2 separate regions of the Homo sapiens genome follow, and region 1 is linked to region 2. Evidence: fine-mapped expression QTL. A gene starts in region 2. The other region holds a variant in brackets. All regions are shown on one strand. Distances are from middle to middle. Region 1 overlaps SLC9A3 (solute carrier family 9 member A3). Region 2 holds the start of SLC9A3-AS1 (SLC9A3 antisense RNA 1).

Evidence for each region. PIP is the estimated chance that this variant, and not a neighbour inherited with it, causes the effect.
Region 1: its variant is fine-mapped to the expression of SLC9A3-AS1 in whole blood (INTERVAL, PIP above 0.99).

The regions. Positions count from the first base shown.
Region 1 is chr5:499,809-504,300 of GRCh38, reverse strand. The region is part of intron 1 of SLC9A3 (solute carrier family 9 member A3); the gene reads left to right. Among named protein-coding and RNA genes, the nearest start is that of SLC9A3, 22 kb to the left of the region's middle. The variant T/G (reference allele first, on the strand shown) is at 1,882.
Region 2 is chr5:471,034-475,250 of GRCh38, reverse strand. SLC9A3-AS1 (SLC9A3 antisense RNA 1) reads right to left here and starts at 2,015. Exons shown (of 7, transcript NR_125375.1): 1 at 1,852-2,015; 2 at 1-114. It overlaps SLC9A3 (solute carrier family 9 member A3), which reads left to right. Exons shown (of 17, transcript NM_004174.4): 16 at 119-368; 17 at 1,869-4,217. The coding sequence ends at 1,872. SLC9A3-OT1 (SLC9A3 3' UTR overlapping transcript 1) reads left to right here and starts at 2,286. Exons shown (of 2, transcript NR_024158.1): 1 at 2,286-2,572; 2 at 3,286-4,217. RefSeq lists enhancers at 1-123, 2,051-2,691, 2,692-3,334 and silencers at 1,308-2,127, 2,248-2,317, 2,678-2,807.

The sequences.
Region 1 (4,492 bases), 29 kb before region 2:
TCACGGGACGCGGGGGCTGCAAGAACACGGGGAGACGTGTGCCCCTTGGGTTCCCGGGGGTTCCGGAGCTGGCGGCAGCCCCACAGCGATGCCTTCCGGCACCTTCCCTCCCCAGGCGCCTCATATAGGACGCTGTCTCCTTGCTGGAAGCTTCTGCAGAAGCTTGTTCCCTTCCCTTGTTTAGTTGTTGATAAACCAAAGGCAAAAACACGGGGAATGCTAAACTTCCGTGATTGATGAAGACGGTTTCATAATTTCTACTTTGAAGTGAATGATTTTATAAGGGCAAGAGAGAAGAGAGGGTGAAGTGTGAGGAAGGTGGGGGTGGGTGGGACCCTGAGAATCCAGGCACCGGGTGAAGATGGGAACCCCCCAAGAGCTCTGGGGGCCCAGTCTTCTGTCCAGAGGCCCCAGCCTCGCGCAGACGATTCGCCGATTCAGGAGAAACCACAGCCGTGGATGAGATTTCCAGCAGACACGCCTTCCTTGCCCATTTCATGGAACAAGAAGAAAGTTCTTTATTGGTAACTCACACACATTATACAGATGGAAAGATTCTCCATTTGTTTTTGATTTTCAGCAGTCTGACTGTGCCGTGCCCACAGGCAGGATTTTCCCTGTACTTGCATTGCTTGGAGCTTGCAAAATTTCTCAAATCTATAAATGTGTGTCTTTCACCAAACTGGGGACATTTTTTACCATTCGCTCTTCAAGGTTTCCCCGCCCCATTCTCCCTTCCTTCCAGAGCTCCAGCTACACATATATCAGGCCTTTTTCTGGGCAAGGATGGGGGCCTCGCTCACTGTCACCCAGACTGGGGTGCAGCCTCAACCCGCCCAGGCTCAATGGACCCTCTGGCCTCAGCCCCCTGAGTAGCTGGGACTATGGGCACAAACCACCAGGCTCAGCTAATGTTTTAATTTATTTTGTCGAGAAGGGGTTTTGCTGTGTTGCCCAGGCTGGTCTTGAACTCCTGGGTTCAAGCGATCCTCCTGCCTTGGCCTCCCAAAGTGCTGCGGCTACAAGCTATTGATTTTGCCCCACAGGCCACTGAGGCTCTGGTTACTTTAAAAACCATTTTTTCTCCTTGGTCTTCCGATGGGATGATTTCTTCTGATCTGTCTTCCAGTTCACTCTCTTTACTGTCATTTCTGTCTGCTCGTAAGTCTATCCATTGAGTTTTTATGTCAGAGATTCTAGGGTTTCTGCTTGGTTCTCTTTGATAAGTTCTATTTTAGGCATCAGCAAACTACAGCCCGTGGGCCGGCCACTGGTTGTTGTAAATAAAGTTTCACTGGAACGCCCATCTGTGTCGTTACAGCGGCTTTCGGCCTCAGTGGTAGTGAGTGGTAAAGTTTCACTGGAACACAGCGCCCATCTGTGTCGTTACGGCGGCTTTCGGCCTCACTGGTAGTGAGTGGTAAAGTTTCACTGGAACACAGCGCCCATCTGTGTCATTACGGCGGCTTTCGGCGCCCGTCTGTGTCGTTACAGCGGCTTTCGGCCTCACTGGTAGTGAGTGGTTATGAAGTGATCCTCCTGTTGGCAGCTTGCAGGACCTAAAATACTCACAATCTGCCTTTAAGAAAAAATGTGCCAAGCCCTGTTCCACTCCACCGCTGCGGCTTGTCCTTTTTAAGTGGTTATGAGAACGTTTCTTTTCTATCCTTGAGCTGCTGTTTTAGGCCCTTGTCTGCTGATTCCAGGGTCTGACCATCTTGCGTTCTCCTCTGATTTGAGCTGGGCCACATTCCCACTTCACGTGTCTCGTGACTTCCGTTGCCCCAGGACGTTGCGACCGGTGTCTTGCCGGGGACTGTGCTCCGCTGCGGCCCCTGGTAGGCGCCGCTGGGTCTGCGGTAGCTGAAGCTTGTTGCTGCT[T/G]TGAGCAAAGCCCTGAGGTGGTGGCAGCTGGGATCTGCATCCAGGTCTTTCCTCTGCTGTGGGCAGCTTGGGACCTGCCTGTGTCTGTCTGTTCTCACGCTGCTAATAAGGGGGCCTGGGCCGTCTCTGGGGGTGGGGGGCCGGAGCGGCTGGGTCCCAGAGAGGAAGGGGTGTGGGGTCTGCCCAGCGTCCTGGACAGAGGCCGTGGCTGGCTCAGAGGCTGCGTTCATTTTGCCCCAGCGCGGTTGCTCAGGGTGGTTTGGAGTCGAAGGATCTCCTGATTCTCTAGGGAACCGTGGGCAACATTCATGTTTCAATTTAAAAACCGACCAGGTTTGCTCGAGTGTTGTAAATGTACAATGTGTAAAACGCCTTGTGACTTGAGCGCAGGGAGTCCAGTCCTGAACGGGCTGTTGTTCTTGGAGCTGTGTGAACTTCATCTGGCAGGAAGCAGCTTCCCGGCCCGGGGGCCCGGCCTCGCTCGGAGAGGGGCTTCCTGCGTGGCCCCCGGGAGCCGGCTCCCCTGTCCCACGCCAACCTGAGTACTCACGGGGAACTGCACCCGCAGGCAGGGACGCGTGGGGTCACGCAGGCACGTCTGCCAGGCCGCACGGCGGACCTCCGTGAGCACCTTTACCTCCGCCCTGGGCTTGACGGCCGACACATTTACCGTGATTCCTCGCCGGTGCCCCACAGGCGGGTAAAGTGATACTGAGGTCAGAGTGTGCTGGCGAGCTCTGCTGGACCTGCAGGGGCGGGTGGCAGAGAACTCAGACCCACAGCTGTGCTAGGAGAACAGGGTGGACCCTGTGCGTGTCTCCTCTGTGTGTCTCTGCACGTCTCTGCGTCTCTGCGAGTCTCTGTGTGCGTGCACGTGTTCCTGCATGTGTCTGCGCCTGCCTGTGGAATGCCCCGGCCCCTCGTCCCCCGGGAGGGTGGGTACCTGTGCTTCCGCCCTCCTTCCTGGCCTCACCGCCCCACCGCTCAGCCAGGCTGTTTCTGGGAGGCAGAGTTTAATCCTCCGGGACGTGTTCCTGTTAAAGTAAAACCACAGGATTGACTGCGCTGTTGCATTTTTGTGGACTCGGCTGAATCTCTGCCACCTTGAAAGGTCCTTGGAGGTGGCGGAGGCCCTGGGCCTGACCAAGCCCCGTCCCTCTGTGCTCCGAGGGGTGTGACATGCATTGGGCCGTGGCCTTCCTGAGCCCCCCGGGGCCCAGAGAGAAGCCCTTTCCGGCGCCCATCCGGAAATGTCTGGTTTGCCAGCGCCGGCCCTTCCTCCTCCAGGCACAGGGTTTGTAATTAGAACTAAAAGCGTCTGTCCCCTGTCGTAACCATCAGGCCACCAAGCCATTGTGTGCTTAATTAGCTGTGACTCTCCAGCCTCGGCAATCAGTTACCTGAGGGCCTGCGTGTCCCCAGGTTTGTCCCCTTGTGTGGAAGCCACACGGGCTGTGGCAGGCGGACTCAGGGCCTGGCCCTGTCCACACCGGCCCGTGTCCACACCAGCCTCGTCCACACCGACCCCATGTCCACACTGACTCTGTGTCCACACTGGCCCCATCCACACCAGCCCCGTCCACACCCACCAGCCCCATCCACGCCTGCCCCATCCACACCAGCCCCTTCCACACTGACCCCATGTCCACACTGGCCCTGTGTCCACACTGACCCCGTCCACACCAGCCCCGTCCACACCCACCAGCCCCATCCACACTGGCCCCATCCACACGGCCCCATCCACACCAGCCCCATCCATACTAGCCCCATGTCCACACCAGCCCCATCCACGCCTGCCCCATCCACACCGGCCCCTTCCACACTGACCCCATGTCCACACCGGCCCTGTGTCCACACTGACCCATCCACACCAGCCCCTCCCACACCAGCCCCGTCCACACTGGCCCCATCTACACTGGCCCCGTGTCCACACCGGCCCCCTGTCCACACCGGCCCGCCTGGCCTCTCCGTGCTTGGTGTGTGTTTCCTGTGTCCCTGGAGGGTCCCGTCCCCGTCTCCTGCCACCCCCCCTTCCATTCTCGCCAGGGATCCACGCCAGTCGCATGCCGTGTGTGCACCTAGCTGGGGGAGCCTCGTGGCGTGTCCCAGTGGTGCCGGAAGCCGGTTCCGTCTGTGGAGCTTCTCGTGGTTTGGCTTCTGCAGTTGTGTGGCTGAGCCCAGGCTCTGCATAGTGCGTCTCGGGAGGGTCCCACACCGCCTGGTTCCCTCACAGTGTGTGCCATGGGGCGAGTTCTATTCTCTTCATTTCCTTAAGGCCTCAGACACCCTCTGCCCTTTCAACCCACAGGGCCGGGGTTGCCGCAGTCAGTGCGGTGGACCTGAGGCTCTTCTGGTAGAAGGTTGAAGATGTCGCTGCCTGTTGCGTCCCAGCCACCCTGCAGCTCCTGCCCAACAGCTCTGGGCCGAGGAGGCTGTGCCCTGCGCCTGTGGTGGCTCCGACGGGGCCCAGGGCTGTGGGTTCCTTCTTCTTTGAGGTGCAGTGGCCCCTCCACACTCCCATGGTATCTCTGTAGCCATGCTGGCTTGAGCAGTGGCCCCTACAGAGGGGCTGGACCCTGGACTGGGAGTGGCTGGGCCTTCTGCTGATCTA
Region 2 (4,217 bases):
CTAACCTTCCCGGTGACCCTAACTTTCCAAGGCACCCAGCAGGTGACGGCCCCGGCGAGGTCTCCCCTGCCGCCGTGGGGCTCTCCGAAGGCTGACTAGCCGCTGCCCTCTCTCCTAGGAATTGACAACCCTGTGTTTTCTCCGGACGAGGCCCTGGACCGCAGCCTCCTGGCCAGGCTGCCGCCCTGGCTGTCTCCCGGGGAGACGGTGGTCCCCTCGCAGAGGGCCCGCACGCAGATTCCCTACTCTCCCGGCACCTTCTGCCGCCTGATGCCCTTCCGCCTCAGCAGCAAGTCCGTGGACTCCTTCCTGCAGGCAGACGGCCCCGAGGAGCGGCCCCCCGCCGCCCTCCCCGAGTCCACACACATGTAACGCTCCCGGGCCTCCCGCCGCCTAACCCCTCTCCGCAGCTCCTCTCCCTCCAGGTCTCCGCCTCGCGCGCGCTGTCTCTCTCCCTCCCCGCCTAACCCCTCTCCGCAGCTCCTCTCCCTCCAGGTCTCCGCCTCGCGCGCGCTGTCTCTCTCCTCCCTGGACCTGAACCTGGCTCGCTCTCTCTCTCCCCGCCTAACCCCTCTCCGCAGCTCCTCTCCCTCCAGGTCTCCGCCTCGCGCGCGCTGTCTCTCTCCTCCCTGGACCTGAACCTGGCTCTCTCCCTCCCCGCCTAACCCCTCTCCGCAGCTCCTCTCCCTCCAGGTCTCCGCCTCGCGCGCGCTGTCTCTCTCCTCCCTGGACCTGAACCTGGCTCGCTCTCTCTCTCTCCCCGCCTAACCCCTCTCCGCAGCTCCTCTCCTCCAGGTCTCCGCCTCGCGCGCGCTGTCTCTCTCCTCCCTGGACCTGAACCTGGTTCTCTCTCTCCCTCCCCGCCTAACCCCTCTCCGCAGCTCCTCTCCCTCCAGGTCTCCGCCTCGCGCGCGCTGTCTCTCTCCTCCCTGGACCTGAACCTGGCTCGCTCTCTCTCTCTCCCCGCCTAACCCCTCTCCGCAGCTCCTCTCCTCCAGGTCTCCGCCTCGCGCGCGCTGTCTCTCTCCTCCCTGGACCGGAACCTGGTTCTCTCTCTCCCTCCCCGCCTAACCCCTCTCCGCAGCTCCTCTCCCTCCAGGTCTCCGCCTCGCGCGCTCGCTCTCTCTCCTCCCTGGACCTGAACCTGGCGCGCTCTCTCTCTCCAGCAGCCCCTCTTCCTCCTCTAGCGCCCTGCTGGCCGCACCTCCCTCAGGAGCCCGGACAGAGATACTCTGGCGTCTCTGCTGCTCCCACGGAGCTGAGGGCACTAGGGCCGCCTGAGATTTCCTTTAGGTGGCTCCGAAAGCTAGTCCGCGAGTCCAAATCCTGCGCTCCCAGGGAGCTGAGAGCAGGGCTGGGGGAAGCCAGACAGACGCCCCGGGTCCCCGACCCTCTCACAGGGATACAGGGAGGGCCGGCCCCGCAGACCCGGACTCTGCCTCCAGCTCAGAGCAGGGAGAGGGGCGGGCCGTGGGGTCTGGGCTTTCTGAGCTCCCTCTGGGGGCCTGGGAGGCACCCGGGGGACGCCAGGGCGGTTTGAGATGGAGGAAGCAGGTCCCCTTGGGGACCTTGACCTCCCGCGCTGCAGGGCCTGGGGCGGGACCTTCCTGCGCCGAGGAGGCCGCTGTCCCGGGACCCCCGGCGGGGGGACGTGGCGGGGCCGGGCTGGGGCTTCGCTGTTGCTGCTTCCGCCTCTGCCCCGCGAACCCGGGTCCTGGGAGGAGGCCCCAGCGGACGCCGAGCCTGGGGTGCGCCGCGGGAGGGGAGGCGAGAGCCGCCGGGCTCGGGGACAGCTGAGGCCCCCGGGGACGCCCCTCCCGCCCCAGCGCCCGGGCTCCGCGCGCCGCTCACGCCTTCCTCTCCCGCAGGTGACACCGGCTCCGACACGCCGCTAACCGGCCGCTCGTCCCCGCGCCACGGTCCGCCCACCGCCGCCGCCGCTGTCCCAGAGAAACCCCAGATCCCCGCGCGGCTACAGCGACCGCGAGCCCCGAGCCCCGCCTCGCCCACGCCAGCGCCTGCGCAGAACTCCGAGAGTGCCGCGCCTGCGCCCGCAGAGCCGCCCGAGGGCGAGCCGGGGGCGGGGCCTGCGCCGGGGGCGGGGCCGGAGCGCCGAGGGCTGCCGAGTGCGCACGCGCGTTCGGCGGCGGCGCGCCGCGTGCACAGCCGGCGCTCGTTCCAGCGGCCTCGCGCGCGCCGCCGCCCCGCGCTGCTGAAGCTGGCGTCGCTGCCGCCCTCGTGCCACGCACCGCCGCACGCGCTGGAGCAGGAGGAGACGCCGCTGTGACGCCGCCGGCGGGAAGGGTCCGCGCGCCATGGCTGGCCGCTCGCGCCCTTTCCCACCGCTGCCGGGAAACCGAGGCTCGCCCCAAACGGATTTGCGTGAAACCAGCCCAAGGTTCCGGGCCCCCCCAACCGAGCCCCGCGCCCGGGGACTGACTCGGGGACCGACTCAGGGACCTCCCGAGCGCCAGGACTCAGGGCCCGACCTGCAGCGGCTGCAGGCCCAGCGCCCGCAAGCGGCCTGGGCCGAGCGCCGTTTCCAGGCCCTCGCCAGGTCTTTGAACTGCAGGTAAAGTGGCAGGAACGTCTTCCGTCTGCTCAGCGTTTGGGGATTTAGACTCCTAAAGCCAGTACCTGCCCCGTTTCCCCCCCAGGTTCCGTCCTGCCCGCGCCCGGTCTCAGGGTGGCGGCCCCGGACACGGCCCGTCCCCACAGACGAGGTCTCCGGCCTGAGCTGTCGCACCTGGCGCGGAGGTCGCCCGGGGTGCCCTGGCTGGGTGAGAGGTGGCCTGGCGGGCGGAGCTTGCCAAGAATCACGGCCAGTCCTTAAGTGGATGGTGGGGCCCAGCAGCTGCTCTGTCCCCCTTAACAAACCAGGGGGCATGGAGGGGCCCAGGGCACCGCCCCCCTACCAGGCTCAGGCCCTCCAAGGAGAACCTGCTGAGACCCCTGAGCCTGTCCTAGACCCCGGACCCCTGACCCTTCCCACCCCTTCCAGCGTCCCAGGGCGAGGCCTTGGACAGAGCTCCTGGTCCTCTGCAGGGAGACCATCCAGCCCAAGCTCTGGGAGGCACAGTCCATTGAGTGGGCGGAGGCCGCGGGTGCTGAGCCGGGGAGGGTGCTCGGAGTCCATCCATCCCTCAGACGGCAAGTCCCACAGGGTCCAACCCACCTGAAACCTGCCTGCACGGTGGAAGTGGTGGAGGTGGACACTCCTAGGGGCTTTTCTAAAGCTAGACTCGCAGCTCCTTGCTCAGGAAAATTAAACTATTCACGTTTCAGATCAAGTGTTGACAGTCACCAGTCAGGAGGAGTTCTTAAAGAGTTTTATGTTGACTGAATATTGCACATTGAGTCCCCATTGAGTCCCTGGTGGGAAAAGTCCACAATTTCCCATTGATAGCTTTTTACTGTTGTGAAAAAGGGAAGCGTCAGCCACACAAAAGCCTGCATGACCGCTGCTTCGGAGAAGCTCTCGACCCTAACTGCAGTCACTGTTACTTGGATCAGATCAAGCGCAGTGACTTTTTGGGATTCAGTGGTTATTCTCCACACTTCGTAGCCATTTCAACCAACTCTGAGCACAAAATGCAGCCATCCTCTATGCAGCAAGCCCTGCCCAGTCAGTGACCCTACTGGACAGATCCAAGGCCAGCCCTGGTTCCCTGCTGCAGCCACCGTCCTGACGTTCATCGGAGCAGGCCGGGGCCTGGCCTTCCCGGCACAAGTGGCTGTTCTGACAGGCCCCCAGTTTGTCCCATCTGAACTGCTGGGAGGTTTCCGGGTGGCCAGAGGAGCAAAGCTGCCTTCCAAGTGCCTGTCTGTGCCTGGGAGAACAGAGCAGGAGCGTCGTGCGGTCCACCGCGCAATGCATGGCGATTCCAGGCGCTGAACAACTCCCCTGGACCCTTGGGCCTGCATCTGACTCCCAGCTGCAGAGTCAGAAGCTGAGTCCAGGCAACTGCTTGGCCACTCCCGATCGCTCCTCCCTGGACACCCGGTTACCAAAGTCAGCAAAGAAGATGCGGTAATCGCCGCCTGATCTCCACATGGTGAACACAACACTCCCACCAACACCTCCTTGACTGGTCGGTCTTCAGCACCGGGGGTGGGCAGGCAGGTGTTCTGTGTTGACGAGAATTGCACAGGCTAAACACAAACACGGAACCAGAGTGAGAACACCTCACTCACGGCAGCCCAGGCTGCTCCCTACC